6 separate regions of the Homo sapiens genome follow, and all the other regions are linked to region 1. Evidence: fine-mapped expression QTL. A gene starts in region 1. Each other region holds a variant in brackets. All regions are shown on one strand. Distances are between the middles of the regions.

What was found. PIP is the estimated chance that this variant, and not a neighbour inherited with it, causes the effect.
Region 2: its variant is fine-mapped to the expression of TNFRSF10C in whole blood (INTERVAL, PIP above 0.99).
Region 3: its variant is fine-mapped to the expression of TNFRSF10C in whole blood (INTERVAL, PIP above 0.99).
Region 4: its variant is fine-mapped to the expression of TNFRSF10C in whole blood (INTERVAL, PIP 0.96).
Region 5: its variant is fine-mapped to the expression of TNFRSF10C in whole blood (TOPMed, PIP above 0.99).
Region 6: its variant is fine-mapped to the expression of TNFRSF10C in whole blood (INTERVAL, PIP above 0.99).

Annotation. Positions count from the first base shown.
Region 1 is chr8:23,100,631-23,105,702 of GRCh38, reverse strand. TNFRSF10C (TNF receptor superfamily member 10c) reads right to left here and starts at 2,782. Exons shown (of 5, transcript NM_003841.5): 1 at 2,522-2,782. The coding sequence starts at 2,581. It overlaps LOC254896 (a long non-coding RNA gene), which reads right to left. Exons shown (of 4, transcript NR_046173.1): 3 at 5,019-5,066; 4 at 2,145-3,006. RefSeq lists an enhancer at 1,908-2,717.
Region 2 is chr8:23,000,584-23,005,655 of GRCh38, reverse strand. It overlaps RHOBTB2 (Rho related BTB domain containing 2), which reads right to left. Exons shown (of 10, transcript NM_015178.3): 2 at 1,030-1,231; 3 at 181-284. The coding sequence starts at 1,221. Among named protein-coding and RNA genes, the nearest start is that of RHOBTB2-AS1, 3.3 kb to the right of the region's middle. RefSeq lists enhancers at 851-1,375, 1,376-1,901. The variant C/T (reference allele first, on the strand shown) is at 2,754.
Region 3 is chr8:23,136,107-23,141,178 of GRCh38, reverse strand. It overlaps TNFRSF10D (TNF receptor superfamily member 10d), which reads left to right. Exons shown (of 9, transcript NM_003840.5): 8 at 2,919-2,991; 9 at 3,176-5,072. The coding sequence ends at 3,309. Among named protein-coding and RNA genes, the nearest start is that of TNFRSF10D, 25 kb to the left of the region's middle. The variant T/C (reference allele first, on the strand shown) is at 2,463.
Region 4 is chr8:22,886,373-22,891,444 of GRCh38, reverse strand. All of the region lies in intron 3 of PEBP4 (phosphatidylethanolamine binding protein 4), which reads left to right. PEBP4-AS1 (PEBP4 antisense RNA 1) reads right to left here. Exons shown (of 4, transcript NR_125433.1): 3 at 4,202-5,072; 4 at 3,423-3,769. Among named protein-coding and RNA genes, the nearest start is that of PEBP4-AS1, 11 kb to the right of the region's middle. RefSeq lists an enhancer at 4,193-4,693. The variant T/G (reference allele first, on the strand shown) is at 2,244.
Region 5 is chr8:23,047,686-23,052,757 of GRCh38, reverse strand. All of the region lies in intron 1 of TNFRSF10B (TNF receptor superfamily member 10b), which reads left to right. Among named protein-coding and RNA genes, the nearest start is that of TNFRSF10B, 19 kb to the left of the region's middle. RefSeq lists an enhancer at 2,428-2,722. The variant C/A (reference allele first, on the strand shown) is at 3,081.
Region 6 is chr8:23,072,637-23,077,708 of GRCh38, reverse strand. It overlaps the pseudogene TNFRSF10B-AS1. Among named protein-coding and RNA genes, the nearest start is that of TNFRSF10B, 6.1 kb to the right of the region's middle. RefSeq lists an enhancer at 2,769-3,028. The variant C/T (reference allele first, on the strand shown) is at 2,211.

The DNA of each region.
Region 1 (5,072 bases):
GGATACACGACAGAGGACCAGAACTGGGACTGTGGCCTCTCAGTACAGCCTGGGTGAGTAGCCATCTGCAGCCACCTGGATGGAGACATTTCCTGCTCACTCTTCAAACTACAACCCGGGCCAGGCGCCTACCAGAAGGACAACTGGAAGCATGGCAGGTAAACCAGGCTGTGGCCCTGCAGTGCCATCGCTGTCCTCACTTGACGTCTGGCTCCTCTGTTCCTCCATGGCCCCTCCCCGTGGTGCTCCACCCTAGTCTTCAGAAGCTTCTGCCCCAAGCTCAGGGAGCAAGTACCAGGGTGCAGGTAGGAACAGGGGCAGCCTCTGCTGGATGGAGGACAGGTGCCTGGGGATCCAGTCCAGAGTGAGTGACACCAGCCCTGAGGATGTGATTTGTCCTCCCACACCTGGTAACACAGCCCTCTGAGGTTTACACAGGGCTGCTGAAGATTTTTACCTCCTCTTCACTTTACAGGCAGGAGCTGGGGCCACACCAGAGTCACAGAGCCAGAGGGGGAGCACGGCAGGGCCCAGCCATTCACAACCTTCAATCTCAGGAGTCCTTGACAGCCTGAGAGTCCGAGATTCTGAGCCGTTGGAACTTCTCAATTCCTACTTTGATAGAGAGAGGAATGGTGTGGAAGGACCTGGCGCACAGATTGGACCAGCCCAGCATTGACAGAGCCAGGACCTGGGGTCAGGAACTGAACTCAGCTCCAGGCTCATCTGAAGTCACCCTGACAGGCTGAGGATGGAGACCTTATCTCCATTCACAGGCATGGTGGGTGGCAGGGACTGGCCCCAACTGACCAGGGTTTTCCAAGTGCACAGCTCAGAATTCAGTCTTCCCTGCTGTCTCATCTGGATACCCTGGTCTACTCCCAGTACCAAAAAACTCCTATATCCTTGAAAATTCCTAATACCATGAGGAAACAAAAATACATAGCAATGTGATGTGTTATGTTTTACATCTTAGACTAGTAAAGAATGAAAGCTAAGTGTAGCAAAGGTGTAGGGACACAGGCACATTTGTGGACTAGGTGTGACTGTAAGCTGGGTTCAGTGGTTTTTTGGAGGAAAATTCGTGAACATTTAAAGAAACTTCTGAAGTCATTTATCCCACAGAAGGAGAAGTAGAATTCAACTTGTAAGGAGTTGCCCAATAAGCTGGTGTGCATGGATATGTGGACACACGATACATACAAGGGTATTTAGTACAATGCTGTTGGAATTAGCAAAGGCCGTCAGGATGGGATCTAACCAGCTGCCCCTAGGCGGCAACAGTGAATTAAAATGTGGCTTACCCATGCAGTAAAATACAATACCCTTGTTTAAAAGAAGATCAATCTGAATGTACTGCCATAAAACATCTAATGTGATTTGTGTTAGCTCCAAAATTTAACAAAGTGATTGTACATTTAAATGCATTTAATAAGGCAAGACTGATGGAGGGATTAAAGCCTCCTTTGGGACGCATAGAGTTCACATTCCCAAAACCGTGAAACTGATGTTGCTGGCCTTGTCTACACTGGTCATCCATGCATTCTCTCTTCAGGGCCACTGTCCTGACACAGCCATTCTTCTAGCTGCCTCAGGTAAGTCCACCCACTATAAACTATTTTAAAAGTCAGTTGTGTAATTTTTGAGAGGTGAAAATGTTACTGCTTTTCTGAATTTAGCATTAATTTGTAGAAAGACAACATGCAAACTCTCATGGTTTCTGTAACCTTGCTTTGGCCTTTTCTTTTTCTTTTTTCTTTTTTTTGTATTACATAAAGAATCTTAAAAAGGGCTGTTAGCAAAAACCTCAATCAATCTGAAAGAGACCTAGAAGTCTGCATATTTTATACATAATATGTCCTTGCACTCACACTACTACCAATCTCAGTTTCCAAAGCCAACTCACAACAACTTTACACCGTTTATGCTGAAGGAAGGGGCCAGCCCCGGTCCTGCCTATGGGATACAGAGGGGACACACGGGTGGTAGTGGAAGACATTAACCAAGGCAGCACCTTGGTTAACCGCTTCCTGCCACATTCCGGCTTCCTGCCACTTTCAGGACAGAGGAGGTGAAAGTTGCTAAAGACAGCGCTGAAAAGTTTTTTCACTGGCTGTTGGTTAAACCGATCTCCAAGGAACACGTTTAAGAATGTAAACATGGGGTTAATTTTATTAACTAATTAATTAATTAATGAGAGAGGCAACCGCTCTGTGTCTTCAGGAGGCTCACTCTATGGGTTCCACCTTGACTCCCTCCCTCTCTCGATTCTGGAACTTCCCTCCCTTCGCGGGCTCGGGGCAGCCAGGGGGACCGCCTCTCTGCTCCCTCGCGGCCGGGTCCCTCCTGCCCAGCCCGGGGACCCAGTTCTTCCCCTGACTCCGACGGCGAGTTCGTCCTGCCCGGACATGCCCGGCCGCAGGTGACCAGGGCCAGGCATCCCTGCCGTGTCCCCGTCTCCCTGCCCCCTCCCGGCGCCAGGTGCGCTCTTCCCCAGCCAGGGACCGCGGCCGGGACTCACTGGCAGCAGGACCGCGACGATGACGACGACGAACTTTAGGGTCTTGGGGATCCGGGCCATGGTATGGTTCCCGACGCCGTCCTGGGTCCTGGGTCGCACCCTGCCTCGGCCATCAGGCGGCCGGGGCGCTCTGTCCCCAGAGTTCCCTAACGGTAGGAAGCGCTCCTTCACCCCTTGCATCTCTGGTCAAACTCCCAAAAATCTATCAGAAATCGTTGGCTGAGTTCGTGCGCGTGGAGAGGTTCCCACAGCTGCACTGCCAGAATCGGAGCGCAGCGCCTCTGAATTTATACCCGCGGGGGAAAAGGCGTGGTCACTTGTCACTTGCAGCAGTCACTTCCAAGCACTCAGAAAAGGGGCATGGCCTCCCCTAGCACCTCCAGGAAGGCCTGGGTTTTGGTGGTGGGTGCATGGACGGACAGGAACTGGCTCTTTCCGGCAGCGGTGACCCAGGGCCTGCGGTTTGATTCCGGGTCCTGTCCAGGCTGTAGGCAGCAGAAGGGGAAGGAGCTGAGGCGCTGCCCACTGCGCTGCTGTAGTCTGGGTAGTGAGCTCCAGAGGAGGCACTGGAGGCCCATCCTGAGCCTGCTCCCTCCCCGGGACGCCTGTCTCTCCTCTTCTTAAACCCTGAACTACCTCCTGGCCTAAGGACTTCAGTCCACTCTTAGCTTCTGCTCCCACTCCCTCCTCCCACAGCGGCCTCACTGACCAGTGCACTGATGCCACTGATGTCTCCAGCCTCCTTGCTGCTGTGACCCAGCTCCAAGCTTCTCTGGCAGGGGCTTGGTATCCCTCAGTAGCGGGTGCCTGGCACCAAGGAGGGGCCCAGTGAACACATGAGTGGACAGAATGAAGGACACAGGGGCCATGACGGGCACATGCAGAGGCTGAGGAGTAGGTAGGAGGGAGAGGAACCCCGGGGGCATCCCTAGCCACAACCTGGCACCCTTTGCATGGTCGAGGCACAGACACTCTCTGGCCGACCTTGTGGGCTCTAGTATTGAGGCCCCATGGACAGAGGAGGCCCAGGGGAGTGGCTTCCAAAGCCTGTCCCCCAGTCAAGTGTCTATCCAGGTCCAACTATCTGACCTTGGGCTACTCACCTCCCCATTGAGTTAAGCACACTGCTGCTGTGTGGAGAGATCCAATGTGTGGTACTGAAGGGTGCCAGCCTGTGACCCTAGGCAGTAAGGTCAATGGCACAACTCCTAGACCCTTGGGGTGAGTCGGCTCCTGACCTCTCACATGGTGGATAAAAGAGGATAGCACTATAGAAACAAAGATTTTTTTTTCTGCTCATCAGAAACCTGGGAATGATATGTCATCCTCTCCACAGGCTTGGATTTGAGCAATGGAGTGCCCTGGGCACCTGCCAGGCCCCAGGCACTGAGTTCGGATCAGAAATGTGTGCCAGGTCGCAGGCACTGAGAAATGTGTGGAGTCAGGAATGTGTGCTGGGGGCAGATCTAGGCAGGAGGTGAGAGGACAGGACTTCAGGAAGACTGACAGCATTAACACAGAGCCACGAGGGCCTGCAGGAAAGTCTTTAGAGCACTCCAGGCCCCTTGGCCCTGGAGGGTGGACTACACAGTGTAGACTAGAAACCAGACTGCAGGTAACACACATTCTCTGTGCCCTGTGTGGAGCACTGCCTAGGGCTAATGGCAAAAGGCTGTGAGCACCTCCAGGGAACTGGGCCTTTAGACTATAAAGTTTCCATTTGAGAGGCACTTACTAGCTTACGATGGAACACTAGCTGAAGCTCCCCCTGTGACTGAAGGACATAAAATAATCTTGAAACCTGAAAAACTCATGATGTCTTCAGAGATCTTGGAAAAGCTCTAACGGGGAGGGCAGTCCCCGAAGAGTTCTATTACAAAATGGAAATGGTTGATACGGGATCCTGGTGCCTGAGGAAGGCAAAGAGGAGACACTCATGAGCAGGGAGCCTCTGTTCCCCACAGACTGAGTCTGGAACTGAGTGAGGAGCTGCTGGATTCTGTGGTCACTTGGACACTGCCCTATACGCAGCTCTTTACTGACCAACCAAGAGCTACTTAGTTTGTAGACAGTCATTCCTAGGTGAATGGTCAACATCCTATTTGGAAGGCCACCCCTCTGATGGAAGAAGGCAAAGGCAAATTGGCTAGGTGGGTTGGATTGCATGCTGTTTTCCTAGCGTGATGGAAGATTTGACAGCAGCAAAAGCCCCTGTACTTGAGTTGTTTTCTGGCTCATGAACAGTCCTCAACGTCTTGGTCATAGAGTTGGGAAGCAGAATGTGAAAGTTGATTGCACAAATTGGGTCATTCTTGTCACACCCAACTAAAACAGAGTCAAGAGGCCATGGGGAAGAAAAATCACTGTATTACCCCCAAACTGCAATTCTCTGTAAGCCTGGCAGCTGTAACCTGAAACTATTAATAGTCCTATCTAATATCTATGGACATAACCTGCTACTGCTCTAAGACCAGCCTGACCCACTGCAGTCACTCACCAGTCAGAGCACGCCTCTTCTTCAAATTTGACAGTGCCAATGAGCTTCCTAGAA
Region 2 (5,072 bases), 100 kb after region 1:
TCCCGGACCCAGGCTCCCTTCACTGCACCAGGCTGCCCCAGCCCCCATGAGGCTCTGCCAGAGCTGTTTTCTCCACTTCTTCTTGCCAGCTGAAATTTCACAGAGGTGCTTTGTTCCTGGGAAAAGCAGGGAAAAACCCACCCTGTTGGTTCTCTGCAGGCGGCTAGAGGCCTTCCCTACCTCCCATAAGCAAAGCGACGGTCTTTGTGGTGGTCTCCAAAGGTGTCCCAGAGGCGCAGAGAGACGCTGACATCATCTACCACGTCTCGGGAGCGTTCCAGCACCTGGGGACGGGGAGGAAGAGTGGGACTCGAAGGCAGCAGTTTTGGGGACCTCTGCGTGCCACCTCAGGATAAGCGCCGGCTGACACCTGGGGGCCCCAGACATCACTGGGCATGGAGGGACAAGGCTGGCATCGCCCACTGTGCACCCTGCACAACTTTCATCCACGTAAAATCTCTGTAGAATCTATAACAAGGGTGGCCTCCAAGCTGACCAGGAGTGGAAGAGACCCTAAGCAGGTGGAAGAGACACTAAGAGGGTAGCAGAGACCCTAAGGGGGTGGAAGAGACCCTAAGGGACTGCTATGGGTGTGGAAGGGGCCTCTTTGGGAGCTGACCCTTGTTCCTGGCTTTCCTTGCAAACTGCATGTTTGTGAGCCTCTGGTCTTTTGCTATCAGCTGCCAGCTTCTTTGCTCCTCTCAGCTTGTATCTCTTCCAAGCCCCAGCCCTCCAGTGCTCCCCATTACTTAAGGCTGTGACTACATACAATGCGGTACCCCAGACAAAGATGGAGTCCCAGGCACCAGCTCAGTCCCTGAAAACACAACCAGCCAGAGACACTTCCCTGGGGCAGACTTGGCTTAAACCTCTCTCCAGGGGCTCCTTCCTCTTCAGCTGCCCCCAACCCATCCTGTCCCACCCCTAGAGGGCTCCCGTGAGCTCTGGAGACACCAAGCTATGCCTCAGGAAGCCCCCAAGCCCAGACTCATGGCGTGGACCCCCAGCCAGGTAGTCCTGCAGCCTTACCTCCTGGCACACACGATATTGGTCGATGGCCCATACTGTGGGCACATGCGTGGCCAGCAGCTGGTACTGGGTGAGGGTGGCATTGCAAGCGCGGGCACAGATGAGCCTGGTCTTACCCACGGCGTTGTCCCCCACCACAACGCACTTGATGGTCTCTACGTTTGGCCTTTCATAATCCATGTCAGAATCCATTAAACGGGACCTGAGGGAGAGGAGGGAGGCGGTCAGGACGGCATGGCATGCCAGCTCGCCGTGGGCCAGGGCCAGCACCCGCAGCTCTCCTCAGCCAGGCTGCCCCCTCTGCAAGCCCCGGAGCTGACAGGAGGAGGAAGGAGTGGGCAACGTTCTGGGCAAGAGCTCTGCGAGGGTCCAAGGGGCCAGGAGCCCATTCAGGCTGAGAGGAGCAGTGTCACCAGATGGGCCACCTGTCCCCTTCCTGCTCCCACGATCCTCCAGCTGTGCGTCTGGATGAAGGAGACCTACGCGAGATCACCAGTGGAGCTTGCCGAGGCCCTGCCCTGTCCCCTCTCCAGAGAGGGCAGCTCACTCATCTGCTCTCCTCCTCCTTCCCCGGCAGAGCAGTGGCAGCAGAACAACAAACAGCTGAGAGAAGCAGAGTCGGCCACGTCCCCACCCCTTCCCAGCATGCCTGAGGGCAGGGCACTTTAAAATTTAATGGACTTGTCAGAACTGGGCAGCAGCTCTCCTGGCCTCCACTCTTTCCCTTGCCCTCTCTGGTGGTGGTGGATTTCCAAGCCCTAGCCTGCCTAAGTGCATGCTTCAACCCCAGACCCCAGTCCCCTTTATGGAGATGCAAGAGTTTTTCCTCCCAGCCTCTCTAGGATGGGGAGGTTCCTGGATGCACCTGACCAGCCCAGGGGCCTCCCTTTCTCTATTCGGGGTCTGTCCTGTTGCCCATGTGTCATGCTCAGCTACAGGTCCAGCTTTCAGATGCGGGTGAGGGGAACCACAGGCCTATGATGATACAGTCAGTGGCCAATGGGCCTCTACTTCCCCTACGGGGGGCTGTCCTCCCAGCACCCTGCCCCCAGCGTCAGAGAGTGAGATCCACCTCCACCCTCTTCTGCCCTTCCCATTCCTAGGGAGGATGATCCTCAGGCTGAAGATCCCAGGCAGCTGGCACTCCTAGGTGATGTTCACTAAACTGGCTACATGGGCGATGGGATTGCCAGAAAGCAAAAGATCAGAAATTTGAGCCTGAATTTCTGGGCAAATGCTTGCCTCAGTTGCCTTCGATGTTGAGCAGAGAGGAAGTGGCTTGTCCACCCCCAGAGAGGGATGGCTTGAATGAACAAACAGAAGGCACTTCTGTAGTCAGATGTCATGTTCGTGTTTAAAAATCTGTCGCCAGGAGGCCCTGGCCTCGGCATCCACCCTCCTGGGATTAGGGAGCAGGGGCAGGGCCAGCGTGATTAGGACGCTTGGTTTCGCCAGCGTCATCTGCCCGCCCCACTCACATTCCTGTGTGTATGAAAGTCGTCTGGGGGGGCTTTAGCAGCCCGGAGTCATCCCTCCTAGGCTAAGGAAGGCTGAGCTCTGAGTGCTGGAGGCTGCCCAGGCACCCTGGCTGCTGAGCCATCCAGCCCAGAGCCAGGCCACCAGCAACAACAGGGAGGCTCCATTCCTGCTGGGCTGTAACTGGATGCCAGCATGCAGGGATGCAGACCGAAATATCCAAGTAACGATAGCAACTGGGATCCGTG[C/T]GAGTGGATGCATCTCAGCAACCTAAGCAAAAAGTGCAGCAAGGACTTCTCAATGAGACAACCTCCTCCGCCTTTTTGGAATGTTACAGGATCTGGACCCTTCAACGAGGTCTCCATGCAGTGCCCTCATGGTCTCCAGGGCAACTGTACCACCCCTTCTCTCTCCTAACCCTCCCTCAGCAGACAACCGTTTTTTGTTTTTGTATTTTTTTGAGACGGAGTTTTGCGCTTGACACCCAGGCTGGAGTGCAGTGGCATGATCTCGGCTCACTGCAGCCTCTGCCTCCTGGGTTCAAGTGATTCTCCTGCCTCAGCCTCCCAGGTAGCTGGGATTACAGGTGTGTGCCACTATGCCGGCTAATTTTGTATTTTTAGTAGATACGGGGTTTCGCCATGTTGGTCAGGCTGGTCTTAAACTCCTGACCTCAAGTGATCTGCCCGCCTTGGCCTCCCAAAGTGCTGGGATTACAGGCGTGAGCCACCACACCTGGCCCAGAGAACTGTTAAGAACTGTTATTCTAACCACAGGCTTCCTCCTCCCAATTCTCTCTCCTGAACTGAGGACCGGGAACCCCACTTTGACAGTTCCTGATCTCAAGTTGAGGAATGTGCTGGCGCCAGGAGGCAGCATCTGGGCTGTGGTTTCTGTTTTGTCGAGTGAATACCAAAACAGATATAATCCCAAATACAAAATATGTGCAGCTGGAGGATAAAGATTAAAACCCAAGAGCCAAAAGAACTTCTTTCTCAAGTTCCGATTCTCCCAGCATGTAGGTCTGTAGACAGAAGCGGGGGAATGAGGAGGCCTAATGGAGGGATGCCAGTTCTCAAATTCAGGAGCACCTTGACAGTGAGAATAATGCCAGAACACCAGCAGAGCAGTGCTGGGCCAAGTTCAGCTACTTTGTGATGAAAACACTGCTGCCCACCTGTGCTATGTCACCTCTAGAGTTAAGCAGTGGTCAGCCAATCAACAAGTGGAAATTGACAAATACTGTGCCATGAGTTTAGACATCAGACCTTCTGGGTTGCGCAACCCCTTCCATCCATTCCCCAGCCCCTTCAGCAGTCCCCTTGTCCTTCAGCTGCCTCTCTGTTTGTATCATCTCACCCTTTCTACCCTGTCCCAACTGCCTGACTGGCAAACTTCACTGTCCTATCTAGGAAGAGGCAAGTCACTTATATTTTCTGGGCATCAGTCTCCCCCTCTGGGAAATGGGTATGAAGACATTGGAAGAGTCTCCTGAACCGTGGTTAATTTGTGCCAAGAGAGGCTGGGCTGAAAGGAGGTATTTGTCTTCTTATGTAATGTGGTATTATATAATGCTAGATTGCATATCTATATGTGTAATTATATCTGTCTTTAAGATACAGACTGGCCCAATTCAAGTGTTAGAACTCTTAGTCTAATCAGGCCTGTCTTAAAGGAGGATCCTGTCCTGGAGAGAGTGTGCCAAGAGTAATATAATTTTTGCCCTAGGATGTTGCTGATGTTGTATCATTGCTGATGTATGGTGATACAGCCCACTCATTGCTGATATATGGTGATACAGCCCATTCAGTGAGCCTCTCAGCTTCCCCTCTCCCTCCGGCTCTCTCTTCTTCCCTGACTCCAGACTCTCCCTCACAATTGCCTCATCCCCACTCAATCAACCTCCATAAACTATGACCTCCTCACCACCCAGCCCTGGGCATCACAACCCCCAACTCACTCCTCTTCCATGACAATCGCAAAGTCACTGGCATGTGTTCCTTCCATCCCTGTCCCATGATCCCTGTGCCCCTCCAAAAACAGCCTCCTGCCCACCGCTCTCCCAGCTCTTTGTACTTGGTGCAAGCCAAAACCCAAGGTGTGCTGAAATTAGCTACAAACCTCGTGCTCTCCCAGTCCCACCCCCACACCCCTACACACACTCTTTGCAGAGCTCAGAAAGGGCCCCTTTCCCTCCCACAGCTGATAGGAGGCTTGTTCATCTGTGGCTGCCCTAGTCTGGTTGTCAAGGAAACAACAGAATCTCCCTGGGAGCCTGGCTTGTCTCCTAGCAACCAGTATCCCACATCATCTTACAAAATGGGAATGGGAGGAAAATCCTGAAAATGAAGGTAAAATCAAGGGAGATGGATTGAATGGAGAATTGGAAGGAGAAGAACAAAGAGAGAGTGGACTCCTAATTCGGGGAGGCTCCCACGGGGGTCGCTGGCATTGCAAGAAGCCCCGTGCAGATCCAACAGAAAGCAAGGCCCAAAGGGACCCTGAATGGTCAGATTAAAGAAATGCAAGCCTAAACACAGATAAGCCCCCTCAAACCTAAAATGTGG
Region 3 (5,072 bases), 35 kb before region 1:
AGATGCCACTTGACAATTTTTGTTTTTATTGCATTGCTTTTGAGGACTTAATCATAAATTCTTTGCCATGGCTGATGTCCAGAGGGGTGTTTTCTAGGTTTTCTTCTAGAATTCTTATAGTTCATGGTCTTACCTTTAAACTTTTAATCTACCTTGAGTTAATTTGTGTATATGGTGAAAAGTAGGGGTCTAGTTTTCGTTGTTCTGCATATGGCTAGCCAAATATCCGAAGCATCAGCTGTTGAATGGGGAGTTGTATTATTCCATTTTCATACTGCTATGAAGAAATACTTGAGACTGGGTAATTTATAAAGAAAAAGAGGTTTAATGGACTCACAGTTCCACATGGCTGGGGAGGCCTCACAATCATGGCCTGAGGTGAAAGATGAGCAAAGGCACATCTTACATGGCGACAGGCAAGAGAGCGTGTGCAGGGGACTGCTCTTTATAAAACCATCAGCTCTTGTGAGTCTTATTCACTATCACAAGAACAGAACTGGAAAAACCAGTCCACGTGATTCAGTTACTTCCAATAATTTTTTCCAATTCTGTGGAAAATGACATTGGTAATTTGATAGGAGTAGTATTAAATCTGTAGATTGATTTCAGCAGTATGCCCATTTTAGCCATATTAATTCTTCCAATCCATGAGCATGGAATGTTTTTCCATTTGTTCATGTTATCTATGATTTCTTTTAGCAGTGTTTTGTAATTCTCTTAGAGATCTTTCACATCCTTGGGTAGAGGTATTTCTAGGTATTGTGTGTGTGTGTGTGTGTGTGTGTGTGTGTGTGTGTGTGTGTCTGTTGTAAATGGGATTGTGTTATTGATTTGGTCCTCAGCCTGAACATTATTGGTATATAGATATGCTACTGATTTTTTTTCTTTTTGAGACAGAGTCTTGCTCTGTCACCCAGGCTGGAGTGCAGTGGCGCGATCTCAGCTCACTGCAAGCTCCACCTCCCAGGTTCACGCCATTCTCCTGCCTCAGCCTCCCCAGCAGCTGGGATTACAGGCGCACACTGCCACGCCTGGTTAGTTTTTTGTATTTTTAGTAGAGGTGGGGTTTCACCGTGTTAGCCAGGATGGTCTCGATCTCCTGACCTTGTGATCCGCCCTCCTTGGCCTCCCAAAGTGCTGAGATTACAGGCGTGAGCCACCGTACCCAGCTACGCCCCGTTAATTTTTGTATTCTTTAGTAGAGACGGGGTTTCACCATGTTGGTCGTGCTGGTCTTGAACTCTTGACATCGTGATCCGCCTGCCTCGGCCTCCCAAAGTGCTGGGATTACAGGTGTGAGCCACGGTGCCCGGTGCTACTGATTTTTATACATTGATTTTGTATCCTGAAATTTTGCTGAAGTCGTTTATTAGTTCCAGGGGCCTTTTGGTGGAGTATTTAGGGTTTCCAAGGTATAGAATCATATCGTCCATGAAGAGTTTTCACTTCTTCATTTCATATCTGGATGCCTTTTCTTTCTTTCTCTTGCCTGAGTGCTCTGACTAGGACTTCCAGTACTATGTTGAATGGGAGTGGTGAGCGTGAGCATCCTTGCCTTGTTCCAGTTCTCAAGGGGAATGCTTCCAGCTTTGGCCCATTCAGTATGATGTTGGCTGTGGGTTTGTCATAGATGGCTCTTACCATTTTGAGGCATGTTCCAATGGGAACTTTCTAATGTTTTTTAACATCCAAAAGAGCAAACACCTCTTCCATACTTTTTCAAAATGTATTATTTTACCCAGATAAAATTTAGAATTAAAAGATTTCCTCCATCCTTCCCTCCCGAAAAACCTCAGTTGCCGTTTTATCAATTCGCTTTAAAATTAAAAATTAATCTAGAAACACTGAATATTTTATTAATATTCAGTATTTCCTTATCAAAGGAGATAACATTTGGTGTCAAGTATTTTATTGTAACTGAGTTGTGATTTGTGTTCCTCTTCAAATAAATTATTCCTGTTTCTTATGGCTGTTTAGTATTTTGTATCCATTATGAGTTGGATAACCTTGTAATTCTGTTTGCTAATTTATTGCATTTGCTATGTTTTTAACATTCCTCCAGACATACATTTCTATTTCAATATTGTAGTTTCATCTTAGGGGTTTTAAATGACGTTGAAAATAATGATTATTGTGTCTGCCCTCTTCCAAAAGTCTTGCCTCATTTTAATTTTCCATCTTGTTGCCTAGGCCAGACCTTTCAGAACAATATTCAGCTGTGCTTAGGGAAGGCAGGTGTTTGGGTCCTGATTTGATTTCTGGGGAAGGCCTCCAAAGTGTCACTCTTAGCAATGGCATTCACTTTTGGTTTCATATAGAAATTCTCATCATCAAGAACACAGCTTACTATTCTAAAAGGGTTTGAAAAAAATCAGAATTGCTGTTTAATTTTACCAAATGTCTTTCCAGCCTCCATAGAGACTGCCATTTTATTTAATTACGCTATTGATATGGTAGAGTAC[T/C]GATGATCAAAGATCATTTACAGTCTTGGGATAAATCATTTTGTTAGGTTTTCCTGGGTGCTCTCATATATAGTCTGCCGAGACTCTGCTGGTAAGAATTCTGGAAGGAAGTGATCATTTCTTGTGAGGGTGGGTGGGAGTTGATTAGATGGGGCAGAAGGGGACTTTCTGGGGTGTGGCAGTTTCTATGTCTTGATCAGGGGATAATTACACAGGCCTATAGTCAAAGTTGGTCAGAACACTTACAAAGTGAGCATTTACTGCATGTCACTTATGTCTCAATGAGCCACCAGCACACAGAGCCCAAGAGCTATGGAGGACCAGAGGTTTGTCTCCATCTCCATGGAGACCCAAGAGGGAAAGCGCTGCAGGTCTCTTGCTGGCTAGTGGTCAGGGTCAGTACTAGACTGCAGGACTCCTGACTCTGACCAGAGCATTCCCCACTGTGTGTTACAGGAACAGGCAGAAGCTGAAGGGTGTCAGAGGAGGAGGCTGCTGGTTCCAGTGAATGACGCTGACTCCGCTGACAGTAAGTGTTTTGTGCCTTGAGACGCAGCAGGAGGACAGGGAATAGGGACGGTGTCCTAACTGCTGTCCCTATAGCTGAGAGGGCTCTTCTGGAGGTTTCACTGCTGGAAGCAGGGGGCCCCATGTCGATCCTGTGCTGATCGTCCTTGGAGCATTGAGACCCTAAATCTCTTCTCTCTTCTCAGTCAGCACCTTGCTGGATGCCTCGGCAACACTGGAAGAAGGACATGCAAAGGAAACAATTCAGGACCAACTGGTGGGCTCCGAAAAGCTCTTTTATGAAGAAGATGAGGCAGGCTCTGCTACGTCCTGCCTGTGAAAGAATCTCTTCAGGAAACCAGAGCTTCCCTCATTTACCTTTTCTCCTACAAAGGGAAGCAGCCTGGAAGAAACAGTCCAGTACTTGACCCATGCCCCAACAAACTCTACTATCCAATATGGGGCAGCTTACCAATGGTCCTAGAACTTTGTTAACGCACTTGGAGTAATTTTTATGAAATACTGCGTGTGATAAGCAAACGGGAGAAATTTATATCAGATTCTTGGCTGCATAGTTATACGATTGTGTATTAAGGGTCGTTTTAGGCCACATGCGGTGGCTCATGCCTGTAATCCCAGCACTTTGATAGGCTGAGGCAGGTGGATTGCTTGAGCTCGGGAGTTTGAGACCAGCCTCATCAACACAGTGAAACTCCATCTCAATTTAAAAAGAAAAAAAGTGGTTTTAGGATGTCATTCTTTGCAGTTCTTCATCATGAGACAAGTCTTTTTTTCTGCTTCTTATATTGCAAGCTCCATCTCTACTGGTGTGTGCATTTAATGACATCTAACTACAGATGCCGCACAGCCACAATGCTTTGCCTTATAGTTTTTTAACTTTAGAACGGGATTATCTTGTTATTACCTGTATTTTCAGTTTCGGATATTTTTGACTTAATGATGAGATTATCAAGACGTAGCCCTATGCTAAGTCATGAGCATATGGACTTACGAGGGTTCGACTTAGAGTTTTGAGCTTTAAGATAGGATTATTGGGGCTTACCCCCACCTTAATTAGAGAAACATTTATATTGCTTACTACTGTAGGCTGTACATCTCTTTTCCGATTTTTGTATAATGATGTAAACATGGAAAAACTTTAGGAAATGCACTTATTAGGCTGTTTACATGGGTTGCCTGGATACAAATCAGCAGTCAAAAATGACTAAAAATATAACTAGTGACGGAGGGAGAAATCCTCCCTCTGTGGGAGGCACTTACTGCATTCCAGTTCTCCCTCCTGCGCCCTGAGACTGGACCAGGGTTTGATGGCTGGCAGCTTCTCAAGGGGCAGCTTGTCTTACTTGTTAATTTTAGAGGTATATAGCCATATTTATTTATAAATAAATATTTATTTATTTATTTATAAGTAGATGTTTACATATGCCCAGGATTTTGAAGAGCCTGGTATCTTTGGGAAGCCATGTGTCTGGTTTGTCGTGCTGGGACAGTCATGGGACTGCATCTTCCGACTTGTCCACAGCAGATGAGGACAGTGAGAATTAAGTTAGATCCGAGACTGCGAAGAGCTTCTCTTTCAAGCGCCATTACAGTTGAACGTTAGTGAATCTTGAGCCTCATTTGGGCTCAGGGCAGAGCAGGTGTTTATCTGCCCCGGCATCTGCCATGGCATCAAGAGGGAAGAGTGGACGGTGCTTGGGAATGGTGTGAAATGGTTGCCGACTCAGGCATGGATGGGCCCCTCTCGCTTCTGGTGGTCTGTGAACTGAGTCCCTGGGATGCCTTTTAGGGCAGAGATTCCTGAGCTGCGTTTTAGGGTACAGATTCCCTGTTTGAGGAGCTTGGCCCCTCTGTAAGCATCTGACTCATCTCAGAGATATCAATTCTTAAACACTGTGACAACAGGATCTAAAATGGCTGACACATTTGTCCTTGTGTCACGTTCCATTATTTTATTTAAAAACCTCAGTAATCGTTTTAGCTTCTTTCCAGCAAACTCTTCTCCACAGTAGCCCAGTCGTGGTAGGATAAATTACGGATATAGTCATTCTAGGGGTTTCAGTCTTTTCCATCTCAAGGCAT
Region 4 (5,072 bases), 210 kb after region 1:
AAATGAACACTTCTTGGATTTGTTACTTGGGTTTCATTGGAGGGAGATGAGGATGTGGGAGACAGCAGGTGAGGTAGGACAGAGGGCAGGAGGAGCCTGGTTCCATGGCTCCCACCCCACTTTCTGCCCTGGCATCTTCCTATGTGTGAGCCACTTATACTGGCTTTGCCTTGACTGCCACATAAGCATTCATTCATTCATTCATCTGGCAAGTGCATATGGAAGAAATATATAACACAGCTGACCTTTATTGGACATCTGGTATTGTGTCAAGGTCATTATGCTGCATATGTTATCCTATTTAATAAGATGGGAAGGGCCGGGAGCAGTGGCTCACGCCTGTAATCCCAGCACTTTGGGATGCTGAGGTGGGCAGATCATGAGGTCAGGGGTTCAAGACCAGCCTGGCCAACATGGTGAAACCCCATCTCTACTAAAGATACAAACAATTAGTCGGATGTGGTGGTGCACACCTGTAATCTCAGCTACTCGCAAGGCTGAGGCAGGAGAATCACTTGAACCTGGGGAGGCAGAAGTTGCAGTGAGCTGAGATTGCTCCATTGCATTCCAGCCTGGGTGACAGGGTGAGACTCCATCTCAAATAAAAAAAAGAAAAGGGGGAAGATGTTGAGGAAAGAACTTTATTCCCAAGTTACTAGTGAGGTTCAAGAAGGTAAAGTAACTTGCCTAAGACCAAGCATGCTTGCCGGTAAAAGTCAGGACTCAAACCCATGTTGTCTAATTCCAAACTCTGTGCGCCACACTGCCTGCTACCTGCCACCTGCCAGGCGGCCTCTGAACATAGTGACCTCTAGACACACTCTGTCTGGTGGACAACACAGTGTGATGTGGCAAGTGCCACTATGAAGGTGTGCCCCACAGTGCTACTGGGGCACAGAGAGGGGAAGCTGGGAGTTTGAAAGATAGGGCTAATGATACCTTCCCCATGTAAATAATGGAGAATGGAGAATGCACCAGATTTCACCTTGGGGTCTTTCCAACGCTGAAATTTGTAAGTCTATGACTTGAGGTTGCTTATTGACATAAAGTTCCTAAAATTCTAGAGAATCGCTGCCCAAAGTGTGGTCCGTGGACCAGCAGCATCGGCATTCCCTGGCCACTTGGTAGAAATGTGCCATTGCGGGCCCCATCCAGACCTACTGAACTGATGTCTGCAGCTTAGTGAAAGTCTCAGACTCTTGAGTGTTCATTACTGCAGTTTCTCTCTTGGATGTTCTCTTGCCTTTCACCTTCAGCCCCTGGATTTCCTAGAGCGCAATTGTTGCTGAGTCCCCAGGGGAGGAAGCTACCTCTTCTCCATCACCTATCTCCTTCCAGGGCTCTCTGTCTCTGTGCCTGTTGAGAGTGGCAAGTACTGGCTCATGTTCTCCTCACTCCTATCAAGGAGCATGAGGTCTTCCAGGTAACATCTGGTGGTGCTCAGCGGCTTGCTCAGAGACCTCAATATTGCTTGGCTCAACCAAAAATAAATTGGAAAAGAAAATTGAACATTGCATCAATTTGGAGCAAGTTTATAAATTCTGCAGCTAAGCAATACCAATAGAAAATGATAGATCGCCACCGAGCAGGGCGTCCCTGCAGTGATGTATAGTCACATTAGCTGAAATACCGTATTACATGATTCTGCTTTATTACCAGTGTTGGTGGCAGACAGAAAAACAGATTACACTTGAGTTCAAATCGATAGGAACTTTATTTACCGGCCTTTTAAAAACATATTTCTGCACTTTATAAAAACATATTTCTGCACTTTATAAAAACATACGGTAGATGCTATTGATAGAGGTTGTCTGCTTGTTAAAAAGCAATTTGCCCAAAACGAGGCTTTTAAGCTGTAATTTACGGCATTACCTTTTACCTCCTTTAAGGGTTCTGTTTGCTTGGCTGTGCTTTGACGACTTCCTTAGACTTCTCTTGCCTTTAATTTTTCTCTCCCATTTACCATCTCCCTAAACTCTGAGCTCCCCGGAGCCTTAGAGCAGAAAGGAGAACAGGGTAGCATCTTCTGAAGGGGACTGGGGTCTCTCCCCAAAGCCCAGCTTCCACCTTCCTCTTCTCAGCCCCTGCATTGTTCTGGATTTTGAGGGGGCTCAGATGGCCCAGCCTCTGCCTCCTGCTGTTTCTCACTCCCATGGTCTTCTTTTCCTCCTTTTCCCAGCTCCAAAATGGGTGCTTCTCTCCCGAGCTCTGATTTCAACAAATCCTGTATGGTAGGAAAATTA[T/G]CCCCATTTTGTAGCTGTGCAAACTCAGGCTCTCAGAAGTCAAACCCAGGTCTTTTGAGTCCAAATCAAATCAAGTCATTTTCGAGGTTTGAAGATTGTGCCCGGCAGTAAGCCTGGTGCTATGGGAATGCAGAGAGCTTATGATCCACTTGAGAAGACAAAACAAACATACTTTTGAATAAACTATGAGAGGTACTTCTCAGTGGTTAAATCACATAGTGACTGAGCATATGGGAGTTTGCCGAAGCCTGGAAGGCTTCCTGGCGGAGTAAGCCTGTGGCCAGGATTAGCCCTGGGTTAGCCAGGAAAGCGGAGAGATGGGAGCTCCCAGCATGGGGAATAAGGTGTAAGAATCCTGAGCCCAGCACTTCCTGACATGGAAGAAGAGAAGGCCTGGTGGCGTGCTGGACAGAAGTGAGGAACCAGTCAGCTGGGCACAAGGGCCTGGTGGCAGAGGCCCAGAACACTGAGATTTGATGGGGACAGAAGTGAGGCATTGCAGGTTTCTGGGCACAGGAATAGCATGAAATTAATGGTTTAGGAAGATGATGTCATAGTGATGTGTGAGATTCTGGTTGGAAATCTGGGGATGCGGTACCAGTGCCCCTGAGCAAACTGGTGTGGCCCAGCCCAGGAGGGCTCCAGAAGCCTGGCCAGAGATAGGCAGAAGCCACGGCCACCTCACTTACAAGCCCCACCCTCATAGCAGGGGCCAAGACTGAGGGTTCTCCCGTGGCCGGTCCTTTTAGAACTGGATGGGTTGGGGCATCCGGTAATCCCAACACTTTGGGAGGCCGAGGTGGGCAGATCACCTGAGGTCAGGAGTTCGAGACCAGCCTGGCAAACATGCTGAAACCCCATGTCTACTAAAAATACAAAAATCAGCTGGGCTTGGTGGCACGAGCCTGTAATCCCAGCTACTCAGGAAGCTGAGGTGGGAGAATTGCTTGAACCTGGGAGGTGGAGGTTGCAGTGAGCTGCGATCATACCACTGCACTCCAGCCTGGGCAACAGAGCGAAACTGTCTCAAAAAAAAAAAAAAAAAAGAAGTGGGTGGGTTGGCCAAACATCCTAGGTTGGCCCTGCATCCAATAAGTTATGTCCTAAAGAAGATGTGTGGAGTCCCCTGCAGGCCACCACAGGGGAAGACAATTAACTGGAAATAAGTAGACAGCAATTAAAATGAGAGCACTCACTCCCTTTTTATTGTCATTGTTGTTGTTATTAAATTATTTTGAGTTAGCAGGTGTACAGATAAGGGTCACAGTGAAAAGCTAACCTCCCTCCCACTCAGTTACCTACTGAAGCAGCTCCTGTTCCCAGCGTGTGCATGCGCGCATGCGTTTGTATTCTCCAGAGACACTTCAGAGGGTTTCTTTTTAAAGACAATAAACTAAAAAGTGCTAGAGAACATCATAAAACTTCATTCGGTAAATACGTTCTTTGAGATGGTCTTGCTCTGTCACCCAGGCTGGCAAATATGATCATGGCTCACTGCAGCCTCGACTTCCTGGGCTCAAGCGATCCTCCTGCCTTTGCCTCTCTAGGAGCTGGAACTACAGGCGCACACCATCACACACGGCTGATGTTTAAAGGTTTTATAGAGATGGAGTTTTTCCATGTTGCCCAGGCTGGTCTCAACTCCTGGGCTCAAGGAATCCTCCCACCTTGGCCTCCTGAAGTGCTGGGATTACAGGCATGGACCACCACACCCAGTCTTATTTGGTAAATATTATAAAAATATACTAGGAGTGGCTGGGCACGGTGGCTCACGCCTGTAATCCCAGCACTTTGGGAGGCCGAGGTGGGCAGATCACCTGAGGACAGGAGTTTGAGACCAGCCTGGCCAACATGGTGAAACGCCATCTCTACTAAAATTACAAAAATTAACTGGGCATGGTGGCAGCCACCTGTAATCCTAGCTGCTCGGGAGGCTGAGGCAGGAGAATCGCTTGAACCCAGGAGATGCAGGTTGCAGTGAGTTGAGATCGCACCATTGCACTTCCACCTGAGCAACAAGAGCGAAACTCTGTCTCAAAAAAAAGAAAAATTATATATATAGAAATACACACACACACACACATACACACACACACACACACACACACACACTAGGAGTGTCCTCAAGGCCCAGTAACTTGGGAGGATTGAAAAAAATAAATACAAGAGATAAGGAGAAAAATAAGGAGAGATGAGTCACAATTAGACTAACAGTCCCATCCCCTCCCCTACACCCTGCAACTTTGCTTTGTGACTTGAGCAGCGTCCCACCCCACCCTGGGGTGATCCCTGGGCCTCCTCGAATCCCTCTGACCTTACCCAGGAGACCCCTGCCACAGCAGACAGTGCTGCTAACTGCTCCCTCAAACACCCACCTCTGCCCCTACCTGAGAACTCCCCAACTTCTGGGCAATGTGCCCAGTGCCAGCTGCCAGCCAGGTGGGCCACCCCATCTCAGGTCCCTGTCACTGTCCCTGTTGCTGCTGTGTGAGGAGTCGGGGCATGCCAGGTGCACCAGAGCTCTCAGTGCACCTGCTGGGCCACTGCTCTGGGGCAGCAGGATGTTTGGGGGCTACAGTCTTACCCCAAAGGGCTGCAAATGGCAGGGTCCTGCATGGCTCCAAACTGAAAGAGGTTACACCTCTCCCTGCCCCTGCATGTTGGCCTTGACCTGGACTTGACATGTGCTGAATGCTTGCTACATGATTCCATTTAACCCTTACACCTCCATGAGACAGGCATTGTTTTCAGCTGCATTTTAAAGATAAGAAAGTCTAGACTTGGGGAATTTAAGAAGCCTTCAAGGTCCCACAGCTGCTAACTGACAAG
Region 5 (5,072 bases), 53 kb after region 1:
CATAATTTAGACCAACTATTTACATTTTTGAAGATACTTTTACCAATAATCTTTAAAATTCTCCTTATTTTTATAACTTTCTGTATATCTCTCTTATTTCCTGGTTTCTTTTACCTTGTTTTATATATAACCTTTAAATAAGCTTTGAATAAGACAACAATTAGTTACCCTTGGCCAGGCGTGGTGGCTCACGCGTGTAATCCCAGCACTTTGGGAGGCTGAGGCGGGCGGATCACAAGGTCAGGAGATCAAGACCATCCTGGCTGACACGGTGAAACCCCGTCTCTACTAAAAAGTACAAAAAATTAGCCAGGCGTGGTGGTGGGCACCTGTAGTCCCACCTACTCGGGAGGCTGAGGCAGGAGAATGGTGTGAACCTGGGAGGTGGAGCTTGCAGTGAGCAGTAATTGTGCCACTGCACTCCAGCCTGGGTGACAGAGCAAGACTCTGTCTCAAAAAAAAAAAAAAAAAAGTTACCCTTTAAAAAGGACACAATCTTTAGAAAGAATGTTTTCCTACGATATATTTTTATTAGAAAATACCCAAATAATTAGATATCTGTTGTTTAATATAACTTTAGATTCTAAATTATGACAAGTTTACTTATGAGTATGTATCCCATTACATTTATCTAATTATTTATTTTAATCATTTACCCAGATTATATATGAAAACTGCGATAGTTGTCATTAAAGTTAGGAAACCACCATTGCAAAATTATGACCGAGACAGTGAAAATGATCTGACCTAACTGACTCCATCTTCCTTCTAACCTACAAGGTATTCTTGTTTATTAACTTAGTTTATAATTTAGCTTTGAAACAAATGTGATAACAGTCCTTTCCCAGAACAAACTTCCTTCATGTCTGTGGACTAGACTGCTTAAGGCCAGAAGATTAGAAGTTAGGGTATTTTGGCCAGGCACGGTGGCTCACGCCTGTAATCCTAGCACTTTGGGAGGCCGAGGTGGGCGGATCAGAAGGTCAGGAGATGGAGACCATCCTGGCTAACATGATGAAACCCCATCTCTACTAAAAATACAAAAAATAACCAGGCGCGGTGGCGGGCGACTGTAGTCCCAGCTACTCGGGAGGCTGAGGCAGGAGAATGGCGTGAACCCGGGAGGCAGAGCTTGCAGTGAGCCGAGATCGCGCCACTGCATTCCAGCCTGGGCGACAGAGCGAGACTCCATCTTAAAAAAAAAAAAAAAGAGTATTTTACTAAATAATTCAAGATGTAACTATCTTCATTAAAACAATATTAATGTTTCATTTATTTAAAAATTACACATGCAAAGATTATTCTGTTTGCACTGAATTATAGTTTTGTAGCCTCTATGCCAGATTTTGACACCTTATAATATTTGGCAGAGATAAGTATGAAATTGCTTGATCAATAAATGCAAACTAAAATGTATGCTGGAAACTCTTAAGACATTTCTAATATTACTTTACCAATAATTTTTAAAACCAGCTTACTTATTAAAGATTTTAAGTCACATAAACTTGAAAAAGCATTTGACTAGTCTTTCCTTTTTTCTGTTATTCAAGTGCTTTTTTCTTTGAGCCATTTAATTAGACCTCTTTTGTATATCTTCAGTAGTGAAACATGGTGTACACAAGACAAATACATAAGTGTATTATGCATGCCAATAGAAGTACATTTTATAGATTCGTAAGACCTCATTTTTCAGTCTCCCTCTACTGCCTAGGCCAGAGTACAGTGGCATGATCTCTGCTCACTACAACCTCTGCCTCCCAGGTAAAAGCAATTCTCGTGCCTCAGCCTCCCAAGTAGCTGGGATTACAGGTGCCTGCCACCATGCCTGGTTAATTTTTGTATTTTTCTTAGAGATGGGGTTTCACCATGTTGGCCAGGCTGGTCTCGAACTCCTGACTTCAAGTGATCAGCCCGCCTCGGCCTTCCAAAGTGCTGGGATTACAGGCATGAGACACCACGCCCGGCCTTAACTGGATGTTTGAGCTCTGGGTGGAGCCCATACTGAATCCTGGGTTTTCAAAAAGGGAGAATTATTATGAGGCTAGACCATGTGATGCTTTTACAGTGCACTTAAACAATTTTTTCCCAAAGACATTTCTAAGTGTCTAAATTACACTTTTTCTTTAAAACCCCAGAGTAGCTTCTGTTTAATAGCTATTAATGAAGAAAACAGAATTCAGTCAACTGAGAAGAAAAAAAGTTTTGCTCAAAAAGATAAGGCCCTAGGAGAGAGAGAAATAAAACCAAAAACACGAAGGCCTTTTAAAGGCCTTCACGCCCCCGTGCGCACACACACACATATGCACATACACATTTTGGATGTTAGCTTTTAATTAAGCTGACTCCCAATCATTGAGCTTCAAAAAATCTTTCTCCTTCCCAGAGGCCTCTCAGCAGAGATGGACCCAATACTTCCCATTTTCAAGTTTACATGGTATCAAAAGGAACAAGACAGACACACAAACAAATGGAAACATTTCAGAAAAACCCAAGGGGAAGTGCACTACGGCAAAACAGACTCTCAAAACTAACGCAAAACCTGATATCAACCAAAGGGAAAGTGGGTGTATGAGCCAGCCCTGTTGCTTCCCTTGGCAGTACCGGATAAATGGCTTAACCAGCCCAAATGGGAAAACAATAGGCTCCTGGCCTAAGATCCCATTGACTCACCCTTTGAGCACGTCCGCTCCTTATCTCTGTTCTTCCCCAGTAGAGAAAGGGACGTGTAGATTTGCACATAAACAGCCCTCTGGAGGGTCCCCTGGGGAAACCTCACCTGACAGCTGCTGGGATCCTCCTGAAGACTGTCTCATCGCAAGCTACCAGCCGCTGAACGCGGCACTGTCCTTATCTTCTGGCTGGCGACTTTTTTGTTCCCAGACCAAACTGAGGGTGGGGCTGCCCAATAATGAGATGCAGGTGAATCTCGCTGCCCAATAAGAAGATGCAGGTGAATCTCGCTGCCCAATAATGAGATGCAGGTGAATCTCACTGCCCAATAATGAGATGCAGGTGAACTGGGGAGGAAGAGAGTTTTTATTTCTGTAACTGGTTACAAGGAGAAGGCCTGGAAATTATCA[C/A]CAGACCAACTCAAAATTACAAAGCTTTTCAGAGTTTATATCCCTTCTAAGCTATATGCCTACATGTAAGTGTGCATTCATCTAAAGACATAAGTGATTAACTTCTTTGAATCTATAACTAAGGTCTGAGTCCTGAAGACCTTCCTCTGGAGCCTCAGTAAATTTACTTAATCTAAATGGGTCCAGGTGCTGGGGTGATTACCCTTATCTTGTCTCCTGCTAAATCATGGAGGTTTGGGGAGTTCCTTCAGCCCTCCCACACACTTGTTTTTGGAGGCCTGGGGAGTTTCTTCAGACCCCCAGTAAAACTTGTTTAATCCTAAATGAGTCCTTGTTAAGAATTTCTTCATTATTTTGTCATGCTTTAAGGCCCAGGAAAGGCCTAGGCAAAACTCTTGGTGGGGTTTTGTTACATCCCAGCCTTTATATAAGGGCACTGGCTTTTTTTAGCTTTTAATATTTAACTTAACCACTCAGTCAGTACTGACACAGTTGTGATGGAGGGCTGAGTGAAACCTGGCCTGCCACGATACTGTTTTTCCCAGTGTGTGTTTTACATTCCCACCAACAGGGCACGAAGGTTCCAGTTTCTTCACACCTCACCAGCACTTGTTATTTTCCATGCTGTTGTTTTTAATATAGTAGACGTTAGTGGTGGTGAGCATCTTTTCATGTGCTTATGGGCCATTTGCTTATCTTCTTTGGAGAAATGTCTTTCAAGTCCTTTGCCCTTTTTAAAATTTTTTAAAAATTTTTATTGTAAATTAAGAAATTACGGCCAGGCACAGTGGCTCATGCCTGTAATCTCAGCACTTTGAGAGGCTGAGGCAGGAGGACTGCTTGAGCCCAGGCGAACGTTCAAGACCAGCCTGGGCAACATGGCAACTCCCAATAAATTGTATGTATTTATGGGGATTTATAGGGTACAAAGTTATGTTATGATTTATGAATACAATATGGAATAATTAAATCAGCTAATATGTCCAACACCTCAAATACTTAACATTTTTATGGTGAGAACATTTGAAATTTATTCTTTTAGCAATTTTGAAATGTACAATATGCTGTTATTAACTACATTCATTGCACTGTGCAACAGATCTCAAAAATCTTATTCCTCCTGTCTAACCAATGGTTTGTACCTTTGATTATCATCTCCCCATTCCCCCGTGCCCAGACTCTAGTAACCACCATTCTATTCTCTGCTTCTGAGTTCAGTTGTTTTTTTTTTTTTTTTTTTGACACAAAAATTTCACTTTTGTTGCCCAGGCTGTCGTGCAATGGTGCCATCTCAGCTCACTGCAACCTCCGCCTCCCGGGTTCAAGTGATTCTCCTGCCTTAGCCTCCTGAGTAGCTGGGATTACAGATGCCCACCACCACGCCCAGCTAATTTTTGTATTTTTAATAGAAACAGGGTTTCACCATGTTGGCCAGGCTGGTCTCGAACTCCTGACCTCAGGTGATCCACACCCTACCTTGGCCTCCCAAAGTGCTGGGATTCAGGCATGAGCCACCGTGCCCAGCCTCGTTGTTTTCAATTTCATGTATGAAAACATACAGTATTTCTCTTTTTGTGCCTCACTTATTTCACTTAGCATGATGTATTCCAATTCCATCCATGTTGTTTCAAGTGACAAAATTTCTATCTTTTTAAAGGCTGAATAGTATTCTGTATTGTCTACATACCACATTTTCTTTATCCATTTATCTGTTGGTGGACACAGGTTGATTGCATAACTTGGCTGTTGTAAATAGAGCTGCAATGAACATGGAAGTGCAGATATCTCCTTGATATACTGATTTCAAATCTTTTTGGTAAATACCCAGAAGTGGGATTGCTGGAGCATATAATAATTCTATTTTTAGTTTTTTGAGGAAGCTCCATACTGCCTTCTGTAATGGCTGTACTAATTTACATTCCCACCAACAGTAAGCAAGGGTTCCCTTTTCTCCATATCCTCACCAACACTTGTTATCGTGCATCTTTTTGA
Region 6 (5,072 bases), 28 kb after region 1:
TAATTGGATACTGCCTTTCCTTTCTTTTTTTTTTTTTTTTTTTTTTTTTTTTTTTGAGAAGGAGTCTCTCTCTGTTGCCCAGGCTGGAGTGCAGTGGCGCGATCTCGGCTCACTGCAAGCTCCGCCTCCCAAGTTCACGCCATTCTCCTGCCTCAGCCTCCCCAGCAGCTGGAAATACAATTGCCCGCCACCAGCCTGGCTAATTTTTTGTATTTTTAGTAGAGATGGGGTTTCACCGTGTTAGCCAGGATGGTCTCGATCTCCTGACCTCGTGATCTGCCCTCCTCAGCCTCCCAAAGTGCTGGGATTACAGGCGTGAGCCACCGCAACCGGCTTATTTTATTTTATTTTATTTTCTTGAGACGGAGTCTCGCTCTGTTACCAGGCTGGAGTGCAGTAGCATGATCTCGGCTCACTGCAACCGCCGCCTCCAGGGTTCAAGTGATTCTCCTACCTCAGCCTCCCAAGTAGCTGGGACTACAGGCTTGTGCCACCACACCCAGCTAATTTTTTGTATTTTTAGTAGATGGGGTTTCACCATGTTGGCCAGGATAGTCTTGATCTCTTGACCTCGTGATCCACCCACCTCAGCCTTCTAAAGTGCTGGGATTACAGGCGTGAGTTACTGCACCCAACTGGATACTGACTTTTAATGTATACATATTTCCTGATCTATGTGCAAGTGCTATAGGGAATACAGTATACACTCAAGTGTTTGTATTCTATTTGAAGTTTTTTAAAAAATGAATTTATTGGCTGGGCTCGGTGGCTCATGCCTGTAATCCCAGCACTTTGGGAGGCTGAGGCGGGCAGATCACGAGGTCAGGAGATCCAGACCATCCTGGCTAACCTGATGAAACCCCGTCTCTACTAAAAATACAAAAAAAAAAAAAATGCCGGGCATGGTGGCGGGCGCCTGTAGTCCAGCTACTCAGGAGGGTGAGGCAGGAAAATGGCATGAACCCAGGAGGCGGAGCTTGCAGTGAGCCGAGATCGCGCCACTGCACTCCAGCCTGGGCGACAGAGTGAGACTCCATCTCAAACAAAAAAAAAAAAAAAGAATTTATTGAGGTATAATGAATATAAAACAAAGTGTACATTTTTAAAATGTGTAGTTTGGTAGATTGAGATGTATGTATACACTACGAAACTATCACCACAATAAGATAATGACATGTCTACCACCCCCCAGAATGTGTTCATTCTTCAGTGTAATCCTCTCTTCTGCTTTGCTCCTATGTCCCCAGCAATGATTCTTCTGCTTTTTGTCACAATAGATTAGATTAGTTGCATTTTAATAAGAAGTGGAATCAGACGGTATGCATTCTGCTTGGATTCCTTCACATGACATGATCATTTTGAAAACCATCCCTGTGGCCATGTGCAGTAATACTGCCTTTTCATGGCTGAGTTGTGTTGCTGAATTAATTGTGTGATATTAATGTAAAGTGTAAGAGACTCGCAACAAGATGTGTCCATTCATCACCACCCAGTATTCCTAAGCCTTAACTATGCATACTTTACGAACCTCACAGCAATGTTATCATCATTGATAATACATATTTTCAAGAAACTAAGAAGAAGTAATAATCCTTTACATTTTCCCCAACTTTATATTTCTGGTGACCTTCCTTTCTTCCTTAAGATCCAGGTTTCCATTTGGTGTCAGATCTCTTCTGCCTGAAGCATTTTGTGTCCTGCAGGTCTACTAGCAATGAAGTGTCCGTGGCGTCTCCAAAATCATATTCACATTGCTAATTCTTAAAGCCACTTTATGCCCATTTGCTCCTTCTTATTTGGTAATGATCTCAGCCAAATATCAGATTATGAAAACCAGAATCCACCTTGAACTTCTTTCCTCTTCTTACCAAACCTATTGCATCACCGGCCTGCATTATCATCATCATTTCCCTCAGATCCGCCTCAGCTGCCACTTGCCTCCTTCAGGATAATGCAACCTGACCCTCACCCTAACCACTAGGACCCATCCCAAATGCTGCCCAGGCCATGTCTGAGGTCACCCACCTAATCCACTCTGCATTGGGCAAACAATGATCTCTGAAGTGCTGATCTGATGGGCGATGTCTCCGGTGAAAACTTGACAATGGTCCTGGTGACTCAGGATGTGGGTGATCCTCTGCATGCTATTCAGATCCTCTGTTCTGTCCTCAGCCTGCCTGCCACACTCCCCACCTCTCACGTTTAACACA[C/T]TCTATGAGCAGGCTGAGAACGCAACATCTGCATTAGTGCAGCTTCCTAGAATCCACGTTACTCATTCATTCACTCATGGAAGAAATATAGGCGTCTGGCGACCACACATACAAGGAGCCGTGGAGTATCGGGAACACAGCATGGCCCTTCCTTTCCTTAGCACAGTTTCCATTCACAGGAGCTGAGGCACAGCCATCATTAACCCCAAAGTCCATGAACTTGTGAAGAGTCTGGAGGGGCTGCTCAGGCAGAGGTGACAAGTACCATAAGTGGCAGAGACATTAGTGGACATAGAGGGGAAAGTCCACACAGACAGAATCCCAGACAAATAGTAAGTCAAAGTAATGGGGGAGGGGAGTAAAAACAAGTGAGGTTGGGACGAGGCTGTGCAGGATGCGGGCCTCTGATTGAGGGAGAAGGGGTGTGTGGCCAGAGATGTGTGGCTGTGTCAGTCCATAGAATTTTGTCAGACTTGAACTTTTCCTGGTGTGTGTGAGTGAGTGTGTGTGTGTGAGAGAGAGAGAGAGAGAGAGAGCGCAGCATGCCAGAGGCATGGTGGAGAGAGAAGGAGAATGAGAAGGGAGGAGGGTGGAGGCTTGCTCAGGTCCTCTCCTGCAAGGCTCTGCAGATCCAGGCTTCTCCCCAGATGAGTCATTAACTGGGGGTTTCCTGGTCATGCACATCCCCCACTGGTGATGCAATAGGTAGGTGGTTGCAAAGCCCAGTGTGGCCCTCACCCTCCCTCAAGCCAAGCAGGCTCCTCTTTCCTCTGCAGGGCACACACACCCTTAAAGCTGCCAGTTGACCCTGAACTGAGCAATCACTCAGAAGACCAGACATCAACTCAGACTTGTTCTCTCAGTCTGTGGCCTGGGATCTACTTCTGAGTTTTGTGGAGTTTCTTTTTATCCCTGTACAAGACCAGGGCCAGCCACTAAAGAGCTGCAGGAGTCCGGGGAAGTCACTTCCCTTCCTCTCTAAACTTCACGTTTCTCTCTCCTGAAAACAGGAAGTGGCATTAAATGAGCTCTCAGAGGCCTCCCAGCAGTGACCCAGAATGAGGTGAGCAGCAAATTCTCCCTTGGGAAAGGCAGCAGAAGCCAGTTGGGCAGTGGGTGCTGCTCCCCTGAGGTTGGCTCACCCATCCCCCAGCCCCCCACCCCAGGAATAGCTGTGTGACCTTCAGCAAGTTACTGAGTTGATCTGTGTCTCACGTAAGAGAACCAACTTAATTATAGTTCCGGCACAGTCAGGTTGCTGTCAGAATTAAATGTGTGAATTTGTATGAAGGGATCTGAATAGAGCCTGACTTATGGGAAGTGCTGTATTTCAGCGCACACTCTGAATAGCATAATCATTACTAAAAGAATTTTTTTTTTGAGACGGGGTCTCACTCTGTCTCCCAGGCTGGAGTGCGGTGGTGTGAACACGGCTCACTACAGCCTCAACCTTCCAGGCTCAGGTGATCCTCCCACATCAGCCTCCTAAACAGCTGGGACTACAGGTGCAGGCCACTGCACCAGGCTAATTTTCTGTGGGTTTTGTTGTTGTTATTGTTTGTAGAGATGGGTTTTGCTATGTTTCCCAGGCTGGTCTTGAACTCCTGGGCTCAAGTGATCTGCCCGCCTTGGCAGGACTACAGGTGTGAGCCATTGCACCCTGCCTACCCTGGCCCATTGACTATTATGAATTAAAGGCTATTGAAAAACAGCAGGTGCATCGCTGGCAAAAGTATACTTGTGTAACGAACTTGCACATTCTGCGCATGTATTTCAGAACTTAAAGTAAAAATAAAATAATAAAGTAGGCCGGGCGTGGTGGCTCACGCCTGTAATCCCAGCACTTTGGGAGGCCGAGGCAGGTGGATCACAAGGTCAGGAGATAGAGACCAGCCTGGCTAACATGGTGAAACCCTGTCTCTACTAAAAATACAAAATTTAGCCGGGTGTGGTGGCGGGCACCTGTAGTCCCAGCTACTTGGGAGGCTGAGGCAGGAGAATGGCGTGAACCCAGGAGGCGGAGCTTGCAGTGAGCTAAGATCATGCCACTGCACTCCAGACTGGGCGACACAGCAAGACTCTGTCTCCAAAAAATTAAAAAAAAAATAATAAAGTATTCAGGGATAAAGAGAGAAAAATAAATTTAGATTGTATACATATGTAAAATATATTTTAAAAGGTAAGCTTGTCTTTTTTATTCCTTAAAGGAGCAGATATTAAAAAAAAAAGAATAGAATAACTCATCTTTTTAGCCTCCACATATTTACTTGCTTCTTCCCAAGTTACTTGGTCTAATTCAGTATATAAGTAACTGACTCTCACTGCTTTTTCTGTGCCATGTAAAACTTGCATTGTATTAATTTGTGTGCTTTTCTCCTGTGGACCTGTCTTATGTCAACTTAATTCTCAGGCCCAGCCAAAAAAAAAATACCCTTAAAGGGAGCTTAGCTTGCCTCCATGACCCTCAATGGTGGCTGTAATCAAACCACATCTTCCAGGCAAACAATACCACATCCTATGGCCTTGCAATGGCATGGCCTCCCTCCAGCACAGCCTCTCTGGAGGAGGGGGAGGCAAGGGTGGTGAGATCTCAGGCCTCCCTCATGCTACCTCCTATTAGTTATATGACCCCTGGTGTCACCTCTCCCACCACACTGTAGGCTCCAGGGAGTAGGATTCACATGGGGTTCATTTGTCCTCCCTGCCTTCAGCAGACTCCAGGCACAGGTGTTCCCAGAGTAAAGGGCTCACTGTCTGCTTCCTGGGTGAATCATTCTCCCCGCAAACCCATGAGGTGAGTGCAGTCGTGGCTTCAGCTCACCGCCTGACAGGCTCCAGGCTGTAGCACAGGGAGGGCCCTGT